2 separate regions of the Homo sapiens genome follow, and region 2 is linked to region 1. Evidence: fine-mapped expression QTL. A gene starts in region 1. The other region holds a variant in brackets. All regions are shown on one strand. Distances are from middle to middle. Region 1 holds the start of RARRES1 (retinoic acid receptor responder 1). Region 2 has its middle 60 kb from the start of IQCJ.

Region 1 (8,325 bases):
ATTATTTTATGAAGGATGTCAAATATCTTATTTTATTTTCAAGGGGGTGACTAAGTGCATGATAATGCAAGTTATTTTATTATTCCTTTATTTATTTATTTATTTATTTGAGACGGAGTCTCGCTCTGTTGCCCAGGCTGGAGTGCAGTGGCACCATCTTGGCTCACTGCAACCTCTGCCTCCCGGGTTCAAGCAATTCTCTATCTCAGCCTCCCGAGTAGCTGGGATTACAGGTGCCTGCCACCATGCCCGGCTAATTTCTTTTTGTATTTTTAGTAGAGAAGGGGTTTCACTATCTTGGCCAGGCTGGTCTTGAACTCCTGACCTTGTAATCTGCCCACCTCGGCCTCCCAAAGTGCTGAGATTACAGGCGTGAGCCACCGCGCCCAGCCTATTATTCCTTTTTAAAATGGTTTGGAAGGGGAAAAAAAATCTCTGGGATTGAAAACTGGTGTACCTTAGAAATCTGAGTGAGCTTGGTTTTCTGCAGGGAATCCTGCCCCTGGTAACCAGGGAGCAAATCCTTAGACGCCCCTTCTTTAGGCTCTGGGCATTGGCTACTACTCTTCTACCTTGATAGAAAGTTCTCAAGGTCCGTTATCTCACTGCTCTGTTGGACTAGGAAAACTGAACTTTTTTGTATCTCAGACAGCAAGGATTGTTAAGACAGGTGACAAGATGGCCCGGCACGGTGGCTCATGCCTGTAATCCCAGCACTTTGGGAGACCCAGGCGGCCAGATCACGAGGTCAGGAGTTCGAGAACAGCCTGCCCAACATGGTGAAACCCTGTCTCTACTAGAAATAGAAAACTTAGCCAGGCGTGGTGGCACGTGCCTGTAATCCCAGCTACTCAGGAGGCTGAGGCAGGAGAATCGCTTGAACCTGGTAGGCGGAGGTTGCAGTAAGCCGAGATCGCAGCGCTGCACTCCAGCCTGGGCAACAGAGCAAGACTCTGTCTCAAAAAAAAAAAAAAAAAAACAAAGACAGGTGACAAGAATAGGTTGCTCCTTCCTTCCTTCCTTCCTTCCTTCCTTCCTTCCTTCCTTCCTTCCTTCCTCTCTCTCTTTCTCTCTCTTTTTTTTCCCCATAGGGTCTCACTCTGTTGCCTAGGCTGGAGGGCAGTGGCACATTCTCTGCTCACTGCAACCTCCAGGTCCTGGGGTCCTGGGCTCAAGCAATCCTCCCATCTCAGCCTCCTGAGTAGCTGGGACCACAGGCCCACGCCACCACATCGGCTAATTTTTTTTTAATTTTTAATTTTTTTTATTTTTGGCAGAGATGGTACTTTGCCATGTTACCCAGACTGGTCTACAACTCCTGAGCTCAAGCGATTTGCCCACCTCGGCCTCCCAAAGTGCTGAGATTACAGGCGTGAGCCACCATGCCCCAGCAGGTTGCCTTTTTCTTTATTATTTTATTTTATTTTATTTATTTTATTTTGAGAGGGAGTTTTGCTCTTGTTACCCAGGCTGGAGTGCAGTGGCGCAATCTCGGCTCACCGCAACCTCCGCCTCCCAAGTTCAAGCGATTCTCCTGCCTCAGCCTCCCAAGTAGCTGGGATTACAGGCATGCGCCACCACACCCAGCTAATTTTGTATTTTTAGTAGAGACAGGGTTTCTCCATGTTGGTCAGGCTGGTCTCGAACTCCCGACCTCAGGTGATCCACCTGTCTCGGCCTCCCAAAGTGCTGGGATTACAGGCGTGAGCCACCGTGCCTGGCCAGGTTGCCTTTTTCTAGGAACAATTTGATTTAATCATTCAATAAATACAGCCGTGCCGGGTACAGGAATAAGTTTTGAAGAACCGAGGCTGAGCTTCTTGAAGGACTTTCCAATGGTGTTTGCTTCCAGGCGTTTGGCACTGTTAAATGAAAATCCTGCTGCTACACTTTAAAACTCGACCTATTTATTAAATACATGCGATACTCAATTCCAGATTCTTTGAGGCCGTGTGTCTGCAGGCTTTGTGGAATATCTGGAGGTTGTAGAAGGAGCAACTTTGCTTTTGGGACAGACTTAGTGTAGTTCTGTAACTTTTGTAATCTATAGGATGAAGAACGCAAAGTAGCTTCACACATACGAGACAATTCCTACAGTCAATGCCTTGAAATCAGCAACCAAACAACGGGTTGCAAAGTTCTCATTCATTCGGTTCATATAGAACACTGGGCTCGGATTCACTCACTTCTAATTAGATCAAATCAGACGCCAGCATTAGCAGGTTTCTGCCCAGGCCTACGTGTAAATTCCAACCACATTACCCCGAAGCCCTAGCGTGGTGGACTGCAATTAACAAGAGACAGTCGTCCGCGGTATGGTATGGCTACTGGCTTAGATTTTGGAAATCCCGCCCAAAACTTTGGCTGCAGCCACTAGTAGGGCGCAGGCACAGTAAGCACCCCCATAGCAACCAACTCTGGGTACCTCCGGACAAAATTAAATGTTGCCCTTTCAGCCTGTTCCTCAATTTCCCAAAGCATCTCTTTCCCAGGTGTGGGAGCAGTCAAGAGCGCTGCCCTGTGAAAAACCTATGACCTCATAAATGCTGGAAGGAACGAGCCAGATTTCTGCAGACGCTGTGCACCGAAGGGGCCCCTTCCACGCCCTGGGATACTTCAGGGGCGCCAGGCCCAGCTGGGATCTCCCCGGGCGTCGTGCGCACTGCACCTTCCCTGGCGGACCATCCGTTGGGCCGGCAGGCGCGCGTACCCAGGTGTCACCTCCCAGCGCCGTGCGCGGACAGGCAGGCGCGTGCCCCGGCGCGTCGCTCCGCACTCACCCACGCGCGGCCCTCCTGCACCTCGGCCAGCACTCGTAGCGCGCTGGGCGAGCCGGACCGGAAGTTGAAGAAGTGAAGCGCCGCGCGCGCCGCCTGCTGCAGGAGCCTGCGCGGGACCCCAGCATCCTGAGGCTGCCCAGGGTCGTCGGGGTCCCCGGACCCCGCGGGCGCCGCCACCGGGGCGAGCAACAGCAGCAGCGCGAGCAGCGGGGCGGTGGGGCGCGGGCCCCTGGGCCCGGACCAGGGAGCAGGCAGCCGTTGCCGGCGGGGCTGCATGGACGCAGGAAAGTTGGCTCGGCACCCGACAGACACGGGCTCGGAGCGGGCAGTGCCGGCGCTCGCGGAAATAAGGCCGTGGTGGGCCCCTCCCCTCCGCCCCCAGGGCGAAGGTCTGTAGCGAGCCCGGGTCCCCATGGGGCCACTCCTTTTCCACGTTTCCCGCAGCCCCTGGGTTCTCTCTGCCCCTCCCCGCTGCCCGGGCTTAGTGCTAGGATGCGGCATCGCCTCCGCAGCGCAGGGCCGGGTGCTTCTGGCCCAGGCCGCGGCGGGAGAGGGTCGGGGTTGGGGGGACAATGGGGACGCCTCCCCGAGGAATCGCGGCCCGCCCGTGCTACCTCGTACCGCGTCCCTAGCCCAGCTCAGGGACTTGGCGTTTCCCCTGCGGTTTCGCAACCCTGGGGTTTTAGAGGGAAACTGCTTGGATTCTCCAAGCATTAGGGCTGTGATTTCCCAGCAGGTGAAAGGGGACGGCGGAGAAAGGGGCAGGCCGCAGCGGGCATTGATGGGGCTCCTCGTGGCACAGCCACTGTGGAGGTGGGAGAAGTCGCCAGAGGGCTGGGGCTGGGGAGGAGGTGAAGGTGGATGCCGGCAGGGAGCCCGGGACGCCGGAGCCAGGGGCTGGGGACGGGCCTGAACACCTGCCGGTCCTGCCCAGAAGAGGCGCCGAGGAGGGAGGAGTGGGCAGCAAGGCAGGGTAAGATAAGGCCTGAGAGTCCCATTTGTCTCAGAAGCAAGTAGGTCATTGATACATTGATAACCACTGTGCGAGGCAGATTTAAAGGCCGGGGATGGAAGTCGGATTCCAGCGGGGTGAGGCATGGATGGGGCTTCAGGGAATGGAGGCAGCAAGTGTTGGCAACTCTTTTTTTTTTTTTTTTTTTTGAGACCATGTCTTGCTCTGTCTCCCAGGCTGGAGTGCAGTGGCACGATCTTGGCTCACTGCAACCTCCGCCTCCCAGGTTCAAGCAATTCTACCTCAGCCTCCCGAGTAGCTGGGACTACAGCCACCATGCCCGGCTAATTTTTGTATTTTTAGTAAAGACGGGGTTTCACCATGTTGGTCAGGCTGGTCTCAAACTCCTGACCTCGTGAGCCGCCCGCCTGGGCCTCCCAAAGTGCTGGGATTACAGGCGTGAGCCACGGTACCCGGCGGCAACTCTTTTTAGACAGGTGGCAGTGAAGGGCTAAGATAGCCATTGTTTTTAAACCGTAGGCAAGAGAAAAAGTCCTGGAGAACCAGGGCTGAGAGAGGAGAACTGGTACTGCTAGGCACTCCCAACATCCATTTCTCCATCCTGCATTTTGTTCAGGGGTCTACCCCTGCACCAAACGTGGACCCCAGTGCCATTGTGGGGCTAAAGGAAATCTCTTTTTGCCAGTGGGTGGTTGAGAGTGGGCATGTGCCAGTTCTGCATGGTGAGCAAAGCCTGTGGGTTGATGGGCGTGGTGCCATCTCTGGAAAGATCCTGTCTTACTGCACTTCTTCCTCTGGCTGTTGTCTGTCCCTTGTCTGTCTTTCCTTCCTTCTGCAGATAATTGTGAAACACCTGTGCCAGGCCCTGGGGGAATGAGGGTGAACAATCTTAAACATCTCTGCCTTCCTGGAGCACACCTTCTAGGCAAGTGGGGCCCGGACACTCAGTGAGGCCAAGGGAATGTGTGCTATATTGGATGAAGTTACATGCCAGGGAGAAAAATTAAGCCAGAAAAAGAAATGGGGAGTTGGGAGGTGGTTAATCTTAAAAGGTGTGGTCAGGGCAGGCCTCTCTCGGGAGGTAATATTTGGGTGAGGACCTGAAGGAGGCAGAGCCAAGTGGACATGTATGCAAAAGCACTGTAGGCAGAGGGAACGCAAGTGCAGAGGCTAGGGCAGGAGCCTATCTGGCATGTTTGAAGAAAAGCAAGAAAATCCAGCTGGAGGGAGAAGCCAAGGGGGAGAGTGCAGGCCCTCGATAGGCCCCAGTTAGGTCTGGCTGTGCTGCCCAGAAGCATGCCTCTGTCTTGCTGGCTGCCTGAGAATGAAGCCCATTTCAAGAGTGGCAGAGCAGAGAGAGGGGAGGGCCCTGGGTTCCTGATGGCATTGTTGAACACAGGAATCAGCGGATCCTGGAGTTTATTTCTTATTATTTCACTTCCCTGAAGCTGGAGTTGCTGTTTCTTGCCCTCAGAGGCAAGCCTAGCACAGGTAATCACCTCCCAGAACCCAGTCATCTCCCCATAGTTTGTTTTGTGCTGCAATAATAGAATACCTGAGACTGGGTAATTTATAAAGAACAGATATCTGTTTCTCACAGTTCTGGAGGTTGGAAGTCCAAGATCCAGGCACCAACAGGCTTGGTGTCTGGTGGGGTCTTAGCTCTGTCTCTGCTTCCAAAATGGGGCTTTGCGTGCTTCATCCTATGAAGGGGAGGAACGCTGTGTCCTCACATGCTGGAAGAGTGAGAGAGTACCCACTCTTATGACCTAAACACCTCACTCTAGGCCCCACCTCCCAACATTCTTGCACTGGGAATTGAGTTTCAACATGAATTTTGGAGGGGACAAAAACACCCAAACTATAGCACCCTCCAAGAGGTTATAGTAGCAGGCTTTTTGAGAATTGATCACTTCCAGGTGATTTTACTTCAGTGCTTTGTTCCCTGTGAGTATGTTAGATTGCTTTCAACTGTATGTAATGGAAAACCCGATTAACAGTGTGGACCATTTATTGGTTTGGAGTGGGAGATCTCAGTGAGTTTCTGAAAGACCCAGGCTCTCTCCATCCTTCTGCACAGCCATCCTCAGCTGGTTGGCTTTTTGTCCATGCACTTGTAGTTTCCTGGTTATAGAATGGCTGCCACAGCTCCAGACAGCACATCTTCACATGCTGCAGCCAAAGGCAGGTAGCAGGGAATAGGTTGCCAGAGTGGAAAGAGAGCTGGACATTGTGCACCTGTTTGTTTTTTGCATCAGGAAGAAATATCTTTTCCAGAACCTCCTGCCTACACCTTTCTTCCCCCCAAGACCTTCCTTTATACCTCCTCAGCCAGATCTGGGTTACACTGGCAAAGCCTAGCTGCAAGGGAGGCTGGCAAACTGAGTGTCTGTCGTTTTTCAGAGTCAATGGTCTGGTCTGTAAACTAGGATTAAATTTAACTGCATGGAATAAACACCCGAATGACATTGGCTTAAACAGGAGAGGAACTTATTTCTCAAAAGAAGTTGTGGGGTAATGGTGGGATGGTAGACAATCTGCGGTTGGTATTGGCAGATCCATGAGGTTGTTAGAGGTCCAGGCCTTTTCCAGATCTCTGCTCCCACATCCTGAGGATGTACCCCTTGCCCTCAGGGTCCACGATGGACACTAGCCATCAGCAGGACTCCCTTTATGGATTTCCTAGAAGTCTCACAGGGCACTTGTGCCCTGTATCTTATTGGCAAGAACTTGGTTGCAAAGGAAGCTGGGAAATGTAGTTTTTATTCACGGTGGCCATATGCCAAAATAAAACTCAGGATTTTGTTACTGAGGAAGAAGATTGTGTCTTACGTTGGGTTTCCTAGAAGCAGGCCCAGAAACAAAGATTGTTCCTAAAAGAAATGCTCCGAGCAGAATTCAGTAAGGAGCTAGAAGAAGGATAGCCATGCAAGGATCTCAGACAGTTATATGACAGGTAGGTTCAGCCTGACCTGAAGGGGAGCTCTCAACTGTAAACAATGCCTCTGAGATGTCCCTGCCCCAGGCAGGGTATCTGGGCTTCCATTCTTCTATGCCTGTCAGCCACTGGCTAAGAGCCACCCTCGTTGATAACCCAGGTACTTCAGTCTTTCTATAGGTGGGCACAAAAGGGCAGTAGCACAAGAACAGCCCTCCCAGAAGAGCTGCAGGAGCCTTAGGTCAGAAGCAAAAGCATGCCAAGTGGAAGGGGCAGACTCAGAGAAAGGGATCTGGGAATCTGCAGAGCCCCAGTGGGGTCCCTGCAGGGATAATGCCTAGTGGGAAGGAAGTAGCCACCTCTGTCACTGAGGCGAGGAGGGGAAGGGTGGGAATGGCTGATAGTGGCCAACAGGCAGCCTGTGCAGCGTGTGTGCAGTTCCTGCCTATGAGATGAGATGGTGAGAATCATGGAAAGTCATAAGCAAGAGGGAAGACAGAAAAGACCAGGAGACCAAGTGCTGCTGTGTGAGCTCAGGGCACTCTTCCGAGGTTAGCTATTTTAAATAGTGATAACAGTTACAATGGGGGCAAATTGATGCTGATCAGCAATGCATGTAGACATTTAATTATAGTATTTATTTTATAAACAGGGATTTTCTGGAACACAGAGTATTTCCTTTGCAAGAACTGTCCATATTCTTTGTCCACTTACCTGTGGGGTGGTTGGATTTCTGGTTGATTTGTAGAAGCTCTTTCAATACGAGGGAAATCAGGCCTTGGTCTGTCATGGGTATCCCTGTGTTTTTTCTCAGTTCATAGACAGATTTTGTGTGTACACAGATTCTTCTTCCTTGCCACATACTGTGTGGGGGAGTGACATTGCTAACTGTCCACCACGTTCTCCAAAAGACCTGTCATCATATCCCACCCCTGGCCCAGGGCTGCTGGAAGACTGTGCCACATAGGAGGTGAGGAAAGTATCAGCCAGCAGGTTCTGCCCCAGCCTCTGCACAGAAGCAGATGTGTCCCCACAAGGGTGTCCTGATATGTCATGTTCCCTAGTTCCTTAGTCATTGCTCAGGTTATCATGAGCATTTTAGAGAACTTACTTTGTGTTTAAGAAACCTAATGGTATATAAAGCTATAATGACTTTTAATCATATGAAAAGATAGTACAGACGGTGAGAGGGGAAACTGACATGACCTGTTTGGTGGACAATTTGCAATATCTATTGAAATTAGAAATGCACATGGCTCTGACCCAGCAATTCCACCTTGAGAGTTTATAATAACAATACATTCACACATGTACATAAAGAAGTATGTGCAAGGATGTTCATTTCCACATATGGATTGTAAACTCCTCCACGGCAGTGACACTGAATGTCTCATTTTCTACTCTCTATTCCCTAGAACAGTGACTGGCACACAATAGACACGAATACAGATTTTTTTTTTTAAACAATGAAGAGTTAAGGGCTGGGAAAACACCTGTGTTTCATGGTTGACTAATTATAGTACCTCCATAGAATGGAATATTGTACAGTCATGAAGAAGAGGTAGATTGAGGTGTGTGTGATACTGAACCATCTCTAAGGTATAATGTTGTTAACAGCAAGGTGTAGAGTAGGG
Region 2 (8,338 bases), 280 kb after region 1:
GCACAGGGTGGTTCCTGTAATAAGTTTCTAAATTTCTTGTGAAATTCAATTGCAGGGCCATCTGGTTCAGGGGGTTTATGTCCTTGTCATGAGATAATTGTATTATCTATACATCAGCAGTGATATCCTCCTTTTAACTGAGTCATCTCACAATTTCTGAAAGTATTTTTATTTGACCATTATTTTTAATTAAAGGAGTAGAGCAGTGCAGCATATCAAAGAATGTTCACAAAAAGGTTGAATATGGTATTTTATGGTTTAGTTTCTTAAACGGCTAAGGTGGGTCTCTCCTGCTTTTTTGTTTCTCTCCTTCCCCAACTATAATCCTCTAGAAAATTTTAGTAGGAATATACACAGCAGAAGTGCAAACTGGTAAAAGGATAAAACGATTATTTCTTTTTAAATTTGTAGGTGGAAGTAGCGATGGGGTAAATGTTAGAAGAATGTAAGAGGAGTTTTTAGACATTTAAGGAGTTGTGCCAAAAGAGTAAGAGAGACAAACGTATGTGTGGAAGTTTGCTGGGGTGACAGAATGAATTACAGTGGACAGACCTAGATAAAGGAGAGGAAGTAAGTGTGGGGAAGGTAAACAAGTAAAAGACATTTAGAGAGTGAGAGTGAAAAACAGGGGAGGTTACTATGAGCATCCTGAGCCTAACACAGAGGGGAGAAAAATCTACAACAATAATCATATAGTGGAAATTTTATTTTATTTTATTTTAAATAAAAATTTATCAATTTTTATAAAAATTATATTGTCGAAGTAATGAAACAGTACAGACAGATAAAACATACAAAATGGAGGTCCTATCACAATCTAACCACATAGGTTACCACTTCCATACAACATAATTCTATGCATATATTAAATGAATTAGTTAGATCTCATTAGTAAGATAAGATTGTACATTTAAAATACAGAAAATATGTTCTTAAGTGGAAAAAAGCAAGTGTGGAAGAGTATGTTCATTATTACTTTCCAGTTAAAATATATACATATATAGACATAGAAAAAGTTCTAGGAAATTTTAATTTAACATTTGTAATTTGTTGTGGAAGAATGTAGAAACACAGATGAATGAGCTTAGGAAGGAAATGAACTAGAGGAGAATACGTAACCACGGTGATTGTCTAGTCATTTATTTTCTATAAGAAACACTGCTTGGCTCACACCTGTAATCCAAGCACTTTGGGAGGCTAAAGCGGGCGGATCACAAGGTCAGGAGTTCGAGACCAGCCTGATGGTGAAACCCTGTCTCTACTAAAAATACAAAAATTAGCTGGGCGTGATGGCGGTTGCCTGTAATCCCAGCTACTCAGGAGACTGAGGCAGGAGAATCGCTTGAACCGGGAGGAGGAGGTTGCAGTGAGCTGAGATTGCACCACTACTCTCCAGCCTGGGTGGCAGAGCAAGACCCTGTCTCAAAAACAAAATTAATAAAAAAGGAAACACTGCTATGGGACTCACTGACATGAAAACCAGTGACCTAGAGTCTAAAGCCATTGCATCCCATTAGCAATTTTGTCAGTCATCTTAAAGAAAATCTGAAGGGCAAATGAACATGGTCCAGGGTACTCTGGAACTATGAACTGAATGAGAAAATGGAACGAGAAATTTGACTTGCTGAAATGAAGAAGCTGACACCTCACATACTTTTCTCTGAGAGTTGTACCATTGGCATGAAAAATGTGAGTGCAGTCTGAATAAATTGTTTTGGTAATGTTTTGGAGTTCTGTTCTCCCACACAATTTCAAAGACTTTCACTTCTTCCCACTCATCTTCACCTAACTTTCCATTTTGTGTTTTAAGTTTTGCAAACGTTATATATAAATACAAAGTTTGAGCAATTCTGTATCTAGGATTTTATCTTATTGACATACTTACACATGCAGGTAAGTATGTATGTTCATCCTTGCAGAAATATCTGTAATAGCAAAAGAAAGAAACGATGTAAACATCCATCACCCAGGTAGCATCTACAAGTCAGAGGGATAATATTTAAAATATTATTCCTGGGCATGCTTCTTTTCTCTGGGTCCATAAGCATTTCCAGTTAGTTTGAGAAGCCCATCTACCTGAGAGGAGAGCATTATTAGTTTCTGATATGCAAAGTAGGATCACCCAGCAAGGTGATAGCCTGGAAAGCCAGGCTGTTATCTGGAGAGAGGATTTTGAAAAGATCATTATCTCCCTCCTTCAACATAGGAAGGAACCAAAAATGATACTCCTGCCTATGACAGCAAAGCCACGGGGCTGCCTTCTATATCTTTCATGGTAGAAGAAGCCTGGAGAGCAGAGGAGATAAGAAAAAAGCCTGACCCTTTTCTACCTTGGGAAATTTGGGGAAGAGGAAGTAAAGGAAGGAAGCCAGTGAAATAAAATCTGTGTATCCCAGTTTTCCCCCTTGCTGATTTTTTTCCAGGCAGGGAACAGAAAGTTAGTTAAGGGAGGCTGACCCTGAAGGCAGGGGGTATTTTGCTTCCCCTTCTTTTTTTTTTTTTTTGCCCTACTCCCCTGCTTTCCCTTCTTATGTAGAATCTAGAGATCTCTTGTGGGACTCTGGCCCATGCATCTGGCTGAGGCCATCTCACTTTGATAGGTTCAACTTCCACATAGTTCCAGAAAACAGGGTAAAAAGCAAACACACAAAAACAAGCAAAAGAAAATCTGGAGGTTTTTTTTTAATTATTATTATTTTATTTCCTTTTTTTTTTTTTTAAAGAATTCCTTGGTGAAAGCAGAGTGCAAGCTCATTCTTATCTAAAAGCATTCTGCCTTGTGGCCAATGAAGCTGAGCTTGGGCCACTGACTACTGATGTGAAATTCCAGAAAAAAACAGCAAACTACCCAAACCTCATTAGTGACTGTCTAGGTTCATTGCCTACCCTTAAAAGGATTATCTGGGAGTCTGAGGCAGGAGAATCGCTTGAACCCAGGAGACAGAGACTGTGGTGAGCAGAGATCGCACCATTGCACTCCAGCCTGGGTAACAAGTGTGAAACTCTGTCTCAAGGATTATCAAAGAGATATGGATAAAATATTCATACTGGTAATCATTCTGCTAAACATCAGGTTATCCTGAGGAATCTTGCCCCTAGCTAGGACTCCTCTCATGCCAAAACAGGCTGTGCTGACAATGTCGTGTGTCAGGAGAATGAAGATAAGTTACCACTTAGAACACTCTGGCTATTTAGAGCATCACCATTCTAAGTAACTAAAAGGTTTACACTTAGAAATAAATGGTGGTTTATCTTCCCTTTCTTCTGCTGTGGGATGGTACCAGCGTGCAGGCCCAACAGCAGCTTCTCTGTAAATGCCTGTACCCAGGAGTCTCAGAGCTGGGCTCAGTGCCCAAAAAAGTAAGAGCAAGAAAAATGAAAATACTGTACACACTGAAGAAAGCTGGGCGGGAAACAACCCTGCTCAGAATTAATGAGCTCCAGCAAATCCCTGCCCTAACAGGAGGATTTCACGTCTACTGTGTCTGAAGGTTGACTTTGTGTTTAAATAAAATCCCGATTTATTTTAAAGAGGACTTACAGATTATTTCTGAGACTTGTGAGCTCTCTGAGTCTAATCGCAAATTCTCCTCTTAATTCCTCCTCTTTTTCATCAGATTTTGAAAATAGAGGGAAAACACATACCTGTTGTTCACCCTCCCTACCCACCCCAAGTGAAATATAGATTTCAGTGTAAATGCTTAACTTCACTGACAAGTAGACTGCGATTCTACTTGCGGGTATCCCATGATCTAGTTCTGTGACCTTATGCAAGCCGTTTGACATCTCTGGGCTTTGGTTGCCTCACCTAAGTAATGGGTGTGGGTTTTGTTTAATTTACTTGAAGGTACCTTCCACCTCCAAGAACCTCCAGATTCATACCCACACCCCTTTCTGTGACCTTCTCAACCCTTGGGAAGCCTTCTTACCTTTCCAGACTTTCAGTAACCTCAGGCTTGGATCCTGTCCAC[A/G]TTCCTCCCCTTCCCACTTGCCATCAAATCTCTGTTAGCTGAGAAGCCAGAAAACCTCTGAGCATGGATGGCTTCTGTTGGTTTTAGCGCCTAGCTATTTCAGTTTGAATAAGTGCAGTTTCCTTTGTTGCACTTTTGGCAAAAGTCACCAGTGATAGCCCTTTATTTATTTGGCCGTTTACCTGGTTAAGGGCTACCTTCCTGCAGCATGTTTTGTTTTGGTTTCTTTCTGCTTACCCTGTATCCCTAATGCACAGCAGTGTCCAGTACACACTAGTCATGTCCAGCAGTACATTTTTGAATGAATAAATGGATGCGTCCTTTCCTGGCAGCGTATCTTAAATCACATTTAGCAGGCAGCCAAAGGTTGACCTTGCTGGAATCTTGGTTGGTGTATGTAGGTCCATCTTGACCCCCCTATCTAAAATAACCATCAGCCTCCTTCCCTCGCACCCCTGCCCATCCACCTTTGGACCTTTTCCATTCTTTTATCTTGCCTAATTTTATTTCCTAGCACTTACATTACCCGAGTTTATTTATTCCTAGCTTTTTAGGTCTCTTCGACTAGAATGTACACATCTGAGGGCAGGGACCTTCTTCACCTTATTTAAGGCTGTATCTTCAGCACCTAGAACAGTACCAGCACATAGTAGGCTTTTAATAAATGTTTGTTAGCTGAATTAATGAAAAATGACTTATCACTTGTAGCTTATTCAAATGATGTGGACGCTCTCTTCCTTGCAGTGTCCCAGGCTGTTCCCAGGTAATATTCTTCTCCCTGTTCCCAAGAACACATTGGACCGTCATATTTTTGTGATTTCTTCCACAAAGCCAGAGCAGAAGCCATGTTCTTTACTGACAGTCAATTCAGAATAGATCATCTTCTTCCTCACTTCACTCTCTTTGCCTTTGTTTTTAGTTTTCAGGACCTCTGAGAAGAAAGAGAAAGGAGACTTGAACAGAGTATACTAACTCTTCCATACAATAAAGTTTCCTTCGCTGGGCAGGCAGGCATGCGTGGTACCAAGACCTCTCTGGTGGCTAAGTAACATCTGTTCTAACGAAGTCTGATGGCTTGCGAAACACTGAAGGCTGCTAGCTGCCTCGAGCAGTACCCAGGGTACCTTCCCTACCTGGTGTTGCTGCTGCTGATTTGGTGGTTGCATTTCTCATCTTTTTATGCCTTTGGGCATGTGTTTGTTGTTGACATCTACAGAACCTCTGAGCTTTCTTATTGTAAAAGTGAAATAAAGGAGCTGGATTAACAGATGTTTTTGTTTTGTTGTATAGAGGAGAATTATGTCCTCTGTCAAAGAATATTTTCATACGGTTCAGTATCTTTTTCTTAATTATGTTTTAAAATCTAAAGTGTGTGTACGTGTGTGTTTGTTGTTTGGGCAGTTTGGTGAGTAAAGGATGGGATGGAAACAGTGGGACGTATGAAGTCATTTCTTTTTTTTATTATACTTTAAGTTTCAGGGTACATGTGCACAACGTGCAGGTTTGTTACATATGTATACATGTGCCATGTTGGTGTGCTGCACCCATTAACTCGTCATTTAACATTCGGTATATCTCCTAATGCTATCCGTCCCCCCTCTGCCTACCCCACAACAGGCCCCAGTATGTGATGTTCCCCTTCCTGTGTCCATGTGTTCTCATTGTTCAATTCCCATCTATGAGTGAGAACCTGCAGTGTTTTGTTTTTTGTTGTTGCGATAGTTTGCTGAGAATGATGGTTTCCAGCTTCATCCATGTCCCTACAAAGGACGTGAACACTTCATTTTTTATGGCTGGATAGTATTCCATGGTGTATATGTGCCACATTTTCTTAATCCAGTCTATCATTGTTGGACATTTGGGTTGGTTCCAAGTCTTTGCTATTGTGAATAGTGCTGCAGTAAACATAAGTATGCATGTGTCTTTATAGCAGCATGATTTATAGTCGTTTGGGTATATACCCAGTAATGGGATGGCTGGGTCAAATGGTATTTCTAGTTCTAGATCCCTGAGGAATCGCCACACTGACTTCCACAATGGTTGAACTAGTTTACAGTCCCACCAACAGTGTAAAAGTGTTCCTGTTTCCCCACATCCTCTCCAGCACCTGTTGTTTCCTGACTTTTTAATGATCGCCATTCTAACTGGTGTGAGATGGTATCTCATTGTGGTTTTGATTTGCATTTCTCTGATGGCCAGTGATGATGAGCATTTTTTCATATGTCTATTGGCTGCATAAATGTCTTCTTTTGAGAAGTGTCTGTTCATATCCTTCACCCACTTGTTGATGGGGTTGTTTGTTTTTTTCTTGTAAATTTGTTTGAGTTCATTGTAGATTCTGGATATTAGCCCTTTGTCAGATGATTAGATTGCAAAAATTTTCTCCCATTCTGTAGGCTGCCTGTTCACTCTGATGGTAGTTTCTTTTTCTGTGCAGAAGCTCTTTAATTTAATTAGATCCCGTTTGTCAATTTTGGCTTTTGTTGCCATTGCTTTTGGTGTTTTAGACATGAAGTCCTTGCTCATGCCTATGTCCTGAATGGTACTGCCTAGGTTTTCTTCTAGGGTTTTTATGGTTTTAGGTCTAAGATTTAAGTCTTTAATCCATCTTGAATTAATTTTTGTATAAGGTGTAAGGAAGGGATCCTGTTTCAGCTTTCTACATATGGCTAGCCAGTTTTCCCAGCACCATTTATTAAGTAGGGAATCATTTCCCCATTTCTTATTTTTGTCAGGTTTGTCAAAGATCAGATAGTTGTAGATATATGTGGCATTATTTCTGAGAGCTCTGTTCTGTTCCATTGGTCTATATCTCTGTTTTGGTACCAGTACCATACTGTTTTGGTTACTGTAGCCTTGTAGTATGCATATGAAGTCATGTCTATAGGAAAGACTTCTGGTTTCTATAAGAGATTATAAGCACATTTCTTCATGCTTCTAATAGACTTTTATGTTTGTTTGTGCAGCGGGCACAGATGAGCTTGAATTTAACCCAAAGTGGCTGACAGACTGACAGATACTGCTCCCTAAAAGCCTGATAAAGGGTTCTAAACATTGAGAAAATAAGTGAGAACAAATGAGGCAATAGAAAATGTTTATGTTGCAAAGCATTTATAATTTGTTTGATAGGATTAGAAGTCACTTGCTGACTGTTCTTCATATCATGTTGGCCTTTAATATTGGCTTTCTGGAGTAAAAATCAGATATAGTTTAGAAAAAATTCCAATTATAAAGTACAGTTAATGTTTATGAATGCTTAACTTTGTTAAAATGAGTTAGTCTTCTTAATAAAGTGAATATTGAAAACAATTTCTTATTAACATGATGTGGGTTTGATGAAAAAAGCACTGCTTCCCTATATAGTAGCACCTTGAAAAACAATTGTCTAACCTATTTACTCGTCTACTTTGTGTAGGAATTGTACCATATAAATTATTCCTACCAAGGATGTACTGTTTTATGTGACTTCATTGTTAGTCTTCTACTTTAGATCTCTTCTACCACTAATTTAGCAAAACTGCATTTAAATCAGTCCCCAATGAGAAGACCTGGAGTTCACATTTTTGCTTTTAATAGACACATTAGTCTTCCTACATGGTAAGATTTCATAAATGGCTTCTTGTTCTTTTCTTGGGAGATAGCTATTATATATCACTCAGTGCATTTCTGGTCTTCCCTTAGGGAATTTACAGGGGTTGTCATTGCTTTGGCTTCAGCAGAAACACAAGATGTTTTAAATTGAATCTTGTATTTGTGCTTGGGATCGATAAAAGTCTTTGTGTACATTTTAACAAGAGTCCTGTAAAGGTTATATTGGCTAAACTAATTTGAATCACCAAATATTACTTTAATACCTAGTTATTTGCACTTTGCTTTCTCCTCAGCCCCAGTAAGGAGATCAGGGGAGGGATTAGAGGAAGGGATGAGGTGAGACTATTGGAAGGATTATTTACATGTTGGCACTGGGGCATAAAGGCCATGGGAGTCCATGAGTCAGGTATTATCCTTCCAGGTGAGAAGCTATGGTTTCAGTTAACCTTTTGTCTTATTTTGAAACATTATATAATGTAATTCGTGTTCATATTAGAAAACTAGGTAATATGAATTAATAAAAATAAAAAAAAATCCATAATTTCACCATCCAGAGATATTTACTCTTAAAATTTTGGTTATAACCTTTTATACTTTTATATTTATGTTTGCCTTTTTGAAAAACAATACATCCTTTATCAACTGCTTAACTGTCCTTGACTTATGCTACGTAATACAGAAAAGAAGAATGGCACTACCATCCCAGATCATCAACTCCCCAAGTGACTGGTCTGAGATAAATTAGAAGAACACATAGAAGCCCCAGAGAGCCTTCA

What was found. PIP is the estimated chance that this variant, and not a neighbour inherited with it, causes the effect.
Region 2: its variant is fine-mapped to the expression of RARRES1 in transverse colon (GTEx, PIP above 0.99).

Annotation. Positions count from the first base shown.
Region 1 is chr3:158,729,360-158,737,684 of GRCh38, forward strand. It overlaps RARRES1 (retinoic acid receptor responder 1), which reads right to left and starts at 3,098. Exons shown (of 6, transcript NM_206963.2): 1 at 2,781-3,098. The coding sequence starts at 3,056. LOC100287290 (a long non-coding RNA gene) reads left to right here and starts at 3,002. Exons shown (of 5, transcript NR_171782.1): 1 at 3,002-3,169; 2 at 4,592-4,678. RefSeq lists silencers at 9-187, 2,913-2,972 and an enhancer at 3,050-3,550.
Region 2 is chr3:159,005,286-159,013,623 of GRCh38, forward strand. No RefSeq gene overlaps it. Among named protein-coding and RNA genes, the nearest start is that of IQCJ, 60 kb to the right of the region's middle. The variant A/G (reference allele first, on the strand shown) is at 3,972.